2 linked regions of the Homo sapiens genome follow. The protein of the gene in region 2 binds, or shares a complex with, the protein of the main gene of each other region. Each region holds a gene or a part of one and is shown on either strand. Other genes may lie near its edges.

Evidence for each region.
Region 1: KAT6B (region 2) and BRPF3 share a complex: the UniProt entries of both Homo sapiens proteins name them as parts of the MOZ/MORF complex.

The regions. Positions count from the first base shown.
Region 1 is NC_000006.12:36,199,744-36,203,496, forward strand, and holds part of BRPF3 (bromodomain and PHD finger-containing protein 3), read left to right. Parts: intron 1-553; 5' UTR 554-579; coding exon 580-2,027; intron 2,028-3,753. UniProt on the Homo sapiens protein: Scaffold subunit of various histone acetyltransferase (HAT) complexes, such as the MOZ/MORF and HBO1 complexes, which have a histone H3 acetyltransferase activity.
Region 2 is NC_000010.11:74,969,600-74,973,352, forward strand, and holds part of KAT6B (histone acetyltransferase KAT6B), read left to right. Parts: intron 1-60; coding exon 61-176; intron 177-420; coding exon 421-502; intron 503-2,907; coding exon 2,908-3,040; intron 3,041-3,753. UniProt on the Homo sapiens protein: Histone acetyltransferase which may be involved in both positive and negative regulation of transcription. Required for RUNX2-dependent transcriptional activation. May be involved in cerebral cortex development.

The DNA of each region.
Region 1 (3,753 bases), on a different chromosome or scaffold from region 2:
CTGTAATAATCTGTTTACTTTTCTGTCTTTTGAGTTAGACAGGGCTCCTTGAGGGCAGGGATCATGTGTGTTTGATTTCTTCTTTCATTCAACTAATACTTATTGAGTGGTTACTTAGGAGCTAAGCACTGCTCCAGGAACTGGGGATGCAGCAGTGAACAAGACAAACAAAAATTCTTCCCCTCATGGAGCTTATATTCTAGTGGAAGGAAGGAAACAATAAACATAGTAGTAGGTAAATTATGTAGCATGGTATAAGATGATGAATGTTAAAGGGAAAAATAAAGCAGAATGAAAGGTAGATTGCTGGTGGAGGAAAAGGATTTGCAATTTTAGATAAAGTGGTCAGAGAAGGTCTCACTGAGAAGTGTTGTTCACTTGAAGAAATGAAAGACTCAAAGGAAGTGAAGGAGCAAGCCATGTGGATGCCTGAGGGGCAAGTTGTTCAGACAGAGGGAAAAGCCAGTCCTCTTGGTGGATGCTTGATCATATGGGAGGATGAATGGGTGCATAAGGGCATCCAACTCATAGTCTCCTGGCCTTCTCTCCTTAGGCCTGTCCCCTCAGTTCCCAGGTGCCATGAGGAAGCCTCGTCGGAAGTCCCGGCAGAATGCCGAGGGCCGGCGTTCCCCGTCCCCCTACAGTCTCAAGTGCTCACCCACCCGGGAGACCCTGACATATGCCCAGGCCCAGCGGATTGTCGAGGTAGACATTGATGGACGCCTGCATCGTATCAGCATCTATGACCCACTCAAAATCATTACTGAAGATGAGCTAACTGCCCAGGATATCACCGAATGCAATAGTAACAAGGAAAACAGTGAACAGCCTCAGTTCCCTGGCAAGTCCAAGAAACCCTCATCCAAGGGCAAAAAGAAGGAATCCTGCTCCAAGCATGCATCTGGTACTTCCTTCCACCTCCCACAGCCCAGCTTCCGTATGGTGGACTCAGGCATCCAGCCAGAAGCACCCCCGCTGCCTGCTGCCTACTACCGCTACATTGAGAAGCCACCTGAAGACCTGGATGCAGAGGTAGAGTATGACATGGATGAGGAGGACCTTGCCTGGCTGGACATGGTGAATGAAAAACGGCGAGTAGATGGGCACAGTTTGGTGTCTGCAGATACCTTTGAGCTGCTGGTAGACCGGCTTGAGAAAGAGTCATACTTGGAGAGTCGCAGCAGTGGGGCCCAACAGTCACTCATCGATGAAGACGCTTTCTGCTGTGTGTGCCTGGATGATGAATGTCACAATAGCAATGTTATTCTCTTCTGTGACATCTGCAACCTGGCTGTACACCAGGAGTGCTATGGCGTCCCATACATCCCTGAGGGCCAGTGGCTATGCCGCTGCTGCCTGCAGTCTCCCTCCCGGCCTGTGGATTGCATCCTTTGCCCCAATAAGGGTGGCGCCTTCAAACAGACCAGTGATGGGCACTGGGCCCATGTGGTGTGTGCCATCTGGATCCCTGAAGTCTGCTTTGCTAACACCGTGTTCTTGGAACCTATTGAGGGCATTGACAATATCCCGCCTGCCCGCTGGAAACTAACCTGCTATATCTGCAAGCAGAAAGGGCTAGGTGCAGCCATCCAGTGCCATAAGGTGAACTGCTACACAGCATTCCATGTGACATGTGCACAGCGGGCTGGGCTCTTCATGAAGATTGAGCCCATGCGCGAAACCAGCCTCAATGGCACCATCTTTACAGTGCGCAAGACTGCCTACTGTGAGGCCCACTCGCCACCAGGTGCGGCCACTGCTAGGAGGAAGGGCGACTCCCCTAGAAGCATCAGTGAGACTGGCGATGAGGAAGGGCTGAAGGAGGGTGATGGAGAGGAGGAAGAAGAGGAAGAGGTGGAGGAAGAAGAGCAGGAAGCTCAAGGCGGGGTGAGTGGCTCCCTCAAGGGAGTGCCCAAGAAAAGCAAGATGAGTTTGAAGCAGAAGATCAAGAAGGAGCCAGAGGAAGCAGGCCAAGACACACCCTCCACTCTCCCCATGCTTGCTGTCCCACAGATACCCTCTTACAGGTAAGCATGCCCAGAAGGGCTCCTTAGGGACTCATGGTTTCTTCTTGGGTTGGTGTTGGCCCTGTGCCAGGCCTTCGCTAAACACAGTTGGACACTATATCCTCCTCCCCGAATTTAAACTCTTCCTTTTGACCCCAGGCTCACCTGGCCTGGTTTGTGGTTTTGATTTTGCCCTCAGAGTAATGTATTTCCTTTAGTTCAAAGTGAAATAAAACACTTAAGTTACTTAGAAACTCAGGTGATAGGATATCTAAGACAGTATTTTTCAATAGGGGCACTAAGTGACATTTTGGACAGGATAATTCTTCGTTATTAGAAGTGTCCTGTACATTTCTAGATGTTTAGTATCCCTGGTCTTTGTAAATGCCAGTCGCATCCCCTCCCCCATTGCCTGGTCTTTGTGACAAACTCAAACCCTCCTCATGCATGTTTTCAAAAACCCTTGGGGAGGGTAGAACTAATTACCCAGTGAAGAACCACTGTTTCAGAGGATCGGCATGGCCATCTGCTGTCCAGCAAGTTCTGTCCTGGGTATGAGGGGGGTGGTGGTGTGGAGAGAACATGCTATTCCTCCTCTTGAAGCTTTAGATTTAGGGATAAGAGGATCATTCAGTTCAGCTGTGTAGCTAAGCTCTGTGGACCCCCCCCCCCTCCGCCCCCGCCATTGAGTCTGTAGAGAGCCCATGGTACCTGTTTTAAAACATCAGAGAGGTACCTGGAACCATTGGAGGGATGGGAGCTTGGCAGAGAAGCAAGAGATAGGGAAGATTTCCTAGCAGAGACTCATCTCAGGGGTGGTGTTCATTAAACAGTATACACTGTTAGAGCAGGAAGGAGTCTTGGAGACTGTTCATCTGATGTAGTCCTTGCACCTTCTCCCACACCCCCAGATGAAGAAACTGCGGCCAAGGGAGGTAAAGTTGTTCACTCCTTTATTCATTCAATGATATATTTATTGAGCACTTAATACATGCCATGTCCTGTTCTAAGGGATGGAACCAGGTGGAAAGTGACAGACCCTATACCACAAGAGCTGGGGCTCATGATGCCTCTAGGTTGCATTCCTGTAGTCCGTCTCTCTTGATGAGAAGGGTAGAGAGAAAGGAGTGCTGGGGAAAGAGTTGTGTGAGAGCTATGAATAGGCAACCAGACTTGCCAGGCTGGGAAGAAGACATAAGTGTGAGATCAGAAGGGGGAGGCTCTTATTGCCAGTTATTACCCAAGTTAGAATTTCAGTGACTCTGTATGTGTTTTCTAGTCACAGAGCTGTTCTAGGTTATTCTTTTTCCTGAGGTAAGTGGGTGGATGCTTAGTTCCCATCTGTAGGGTGGTTTTACCCTGAGGCTAGAATCTTTGGTTGACATATATGTTGTTCTAGATGCCTCTTGCTGGGGCCAGCAGAGCTTGCTGGCTAAGAACCAGACAAACCTACATTTGAAACCCAATTCTGTGACTTAGTACCTTTGTGACTTTTGGCAAGTTGCTTAGCTGCTCTAAGCCTTAGTTTATTTGTAAATGAACCCACCACATAGAGTTGTTGTGAGAAATAAATGAGATAATATAAGTAAAGCACTTAGCACAGTGTCTGGCAAATAGTAAGTGCTCAATAAATGGTGACTACTGCTGCTGCTGCTATTTTATTATTGCTGTTCTTTTCCCTACCTGCACAAATGCTGTTGGGATCCTCCATGGCCAAGAGGTAGAGGGAGGGTGCTGCCTACATCTG
Region 2 (3,753 bases):
GGAGTTTAAAAAAGTCAAAGGCACCATTCCCATCAAGCAATTTGCTTTTTATTCTCATAGGACACCCATCCTGTTTGAAATTTTGTCCTGAATTAACAACAAATGTAAAGGCCTTAAGGTGGCAGTGCATCGAATGCAAGACATGCAGTGCCTGTAGAGTCCAAGGCAGAAATGCTGTAAGTATGGCTCCCGTAATCCGCCTCCAGGTAACTCGCTAATTTCCAGTGTTAAGGTGTTTTCATTTTTATAGAGTATGGCTACTTTCTTTCTAAAGCTTTAAATACACATGATGTCAAACTGCAACCAGGATCTTGGTGCACTTTCCTTATATTGTATTAATGTTAATCCAGTAACAAAAGAATTTTTGGCCTTTTACAGTTGGTTTCAGTCTCAATTAGTCTCTAATATGTTATATTACAGGATAATATGCTTTTTTGTGATTCCTGTGATAGAGGATTTCATATGGAATGCTGTGACCCACCACTTTCCAGAATGCCAAAAGGTGAACTTCTAAACTGTACTAAAAATGTATTTTATTACATATTGGTTAGCTTTGTCCTGAGGTCTGACAGCTCAGAGGTATACAGGTTCTTTAAGCATTTTTTTCATCCCTCCCACCTTCCCTATACTTCTGAGTTTAGCACAGGTTGTGAATAGAGGAGTATAAAAGCATAGAAAAAAATACATATATATATGTGTATATATATACATATATATAAAATAAAGGCTCTAATTCAGACCCAGGGATGAAAAGACCATCTCTCTCTCCAAACCATTCCCCTATTAGAATAAGATTAGATTATTAAGGTCAAAAGTTTAGAACACTTTCCATATTATTCAGCACAGTGTTAAGAGCTTAACAAATTTTATATTTTTGAGGATGATAGTGACTCCAAAGTCCTACAACAGGAAGCCATCACCATTTTCTTGGCCATTAGTTGATATTTTGAACACGAGCATCTGAATGATCTTATAGCTGATTGTGTCTGATGGAATGTGGATTTTCTTCTGTTTATTGTGTAAATCAGCTAAGCTCAGCCTTTTCCCCTCATTTTGCAATATATTAAACATTTAAAAATAACTTTGCCTTTTTATTATAAAATCCATAATTTACATTGTGGAAGATTTAAAAAGTACAGATAGACAAAAAAGGAATAAAAATAAAAATGAATTGGAAATTTCCTTCTCTGCCTTCACATACCCTTTGAAGGGAAATGGAACATTCTGTACATGTTTTTGTAATGTACTTTTTCCTCCCTCTTAATAGATTATAAGCATCCCCTACATCATTAAATATTCTCCTAAACATAGTTTTTAATAAGTATGTAGAACTCCATAGTATAGAGCAGGGATTACAAACCTGGCAACTATGGGTCACAGATATGCTTTGTTGGTACAATATTTTTACAAGTTTGAATCTGAGTCCTCTGGGTGGTGCGTGTGTGCTCCAGTTTGCCACAATCTCACTACTCCCTGCTGTCTTACGTTCCAATTTGCTTCAGTCACATACATTATACAATCTAGGTCCTTCCTGGAGGTATTTGATTTTCCAACCCTCTATATAAATGAACTCTAATTTATTTAACCAGTCCCTTAGGGTGGATATTACAAATGTTTCCAATTTTTTCCATCCACAATTATTTCCTTGAAATAAATTCCTAGAGGAGGAACTGTTGGATCAAAGGCTAGATACATGAAAGGCTGTATCAGTTTTCAGGCTGTCCAGCAGTATAGAAGGATACCTATTTTCCTGTATTGTGACCAGTACTCACCGTTACTATATCTCCTTGAGTCTAAGACACATTTTTTTAATGTTTTAATATTTTTGAAGTCAGATGCATCATACAGTATCTTAGATTTGATTAGAGTATTATTATTTTTAAAATTTTACCAGTTTGATAATAGAAATATGTCTGATTATTTCTTTTTAAGTAGTCAGATTGAACATTTCTTGTGTTTTATTCTTGGCTGTTTGTATATCATCTTTTCTAAAGTACCTCTTTTTATCCATTAATCATTTTTCTCTTGGGATTTTTACCTTTTTCTTCCTGATTTGCAGAAGCTCTTTTTTTGTGTGTAGTCATATTCATGAATCTTTTTATTTATGGCTTCAGTTTTAAATGTCAGTCATGCTTAGATTATATAAATATCCACATATCTTTCCTGGTACTTATAACATTTTATTTTTTCATATTACAATATTCATCTGTCTAGAATTTATTCTTGTAAAGGATAGGAAATAATTCCTCTTCCAGATAGATAGCTATTTGTTCTATCATGCTTATTGAATCATTTCATCCTTTCTCCACTGATTTAAAATATGACCTTTTGATATGCTAAACTTTTCTGTAGGCTTTGGTTGTTCTGGTCTTTCCATTCTTATCCATTGACCTATTTCTCTATGCTAGATGTATAGTTTGAATCATTGTAGTTCTGCAGTACTCAAAACTTTTATTTAAATTTTAAAATTATATTTTATACTGATAATTTTTTTTTAGTGTTGGAACTTTCCAGAAAGAGATGATAAGACAATTTTTTTTTCTTCTAGAAATTCCAAAAATGGACTGATTTGAAAATGTCTCCCTCAAATCAAAAGATATAATATCTGACAGGGGCGAGTTTTCATGTGTGTTTATGTGTTGGTGAGAGGCTTAATGACATGTTGGGAACAGCTTCATGGAAGGATTCTGAGAGAGGGGCCACCTCTGCCCTCACCACCTTCACTCCAGGGAAATTGACCTTAGTGATGGCTTCCTAAGGAAAATGACAAAGGGAATGACGCATTTTTTGGAGTAAAGTTCAGCATACAGGCATCCTTGAGCAGCTTATTACAGCTACAACTTATATTTAATATCTTCTCTTAAAATGAAACATTAAAATATTTTTCTCATATATATATTAATTCAGGGATGTGGATTTGCCAAGTCTGCAGACCAAAGAAAAAGGGAAGAAAACTACTTCATGAGAAAGCTGCACAAATAAAACGACGATATGCAAAACCCATTGGACGACCGAAAAATAAATTAAAGCAACGATTGTTGTAGGTTGAGATCTTATCAAAAGAAATCATTTATGTTTTGCTTTAAAATATAGGTGATTGTTATTCTCTCAGATTCCTTTAGGGGTTTTTTGGCATCATTTTTTCAAACTCAAGGGTTGAAAAATACTTTTCCTTTTGCATAAGCTGTGGAAATTTTTTGAAAATAACATTTTTAATTACCATTGGCATTTTGGGGTCTTCTGTTGGCAGTAGCTGTGATACTAAGTGACATTTTTCAAGCAGCAGGATGGAAGCAGAATGTAAGAATTGGAAACAGTCATTCAGCCTACTTTATTACTGGCTGAGCATTAGAGCTTAATTATGTAAATATTTTCATAGGAATTTTAAAACGAGAGGGATTTGTCCATGTCTATAGCAAATCTCTTTTGTCACTCCAGATAACATTTTAGAAAAATACCTCTCTCTTCTGATAGTAATGTAGCATTACCACTTTTTAAGATCTCTTTTATGAAATAGGAGCTTCTGAAAAACCTGCAGATGACCACTTACCTCTGAAGAGTTAGACAGAACTATTTGACAACTGCACTAGTGCAGACATATATATAAAATAATATATTCGCAGTGGCCTGGAAATCTACTATGATAACCCCATTTTCACTATCTTGTTGCTGTATAATTGCCATTAAAGCCCAGTAGAGCATTTAGCAGGAGTTAGTTGGAAAAGCAGAGAAAAGATAAGAGGTGAAATGAAT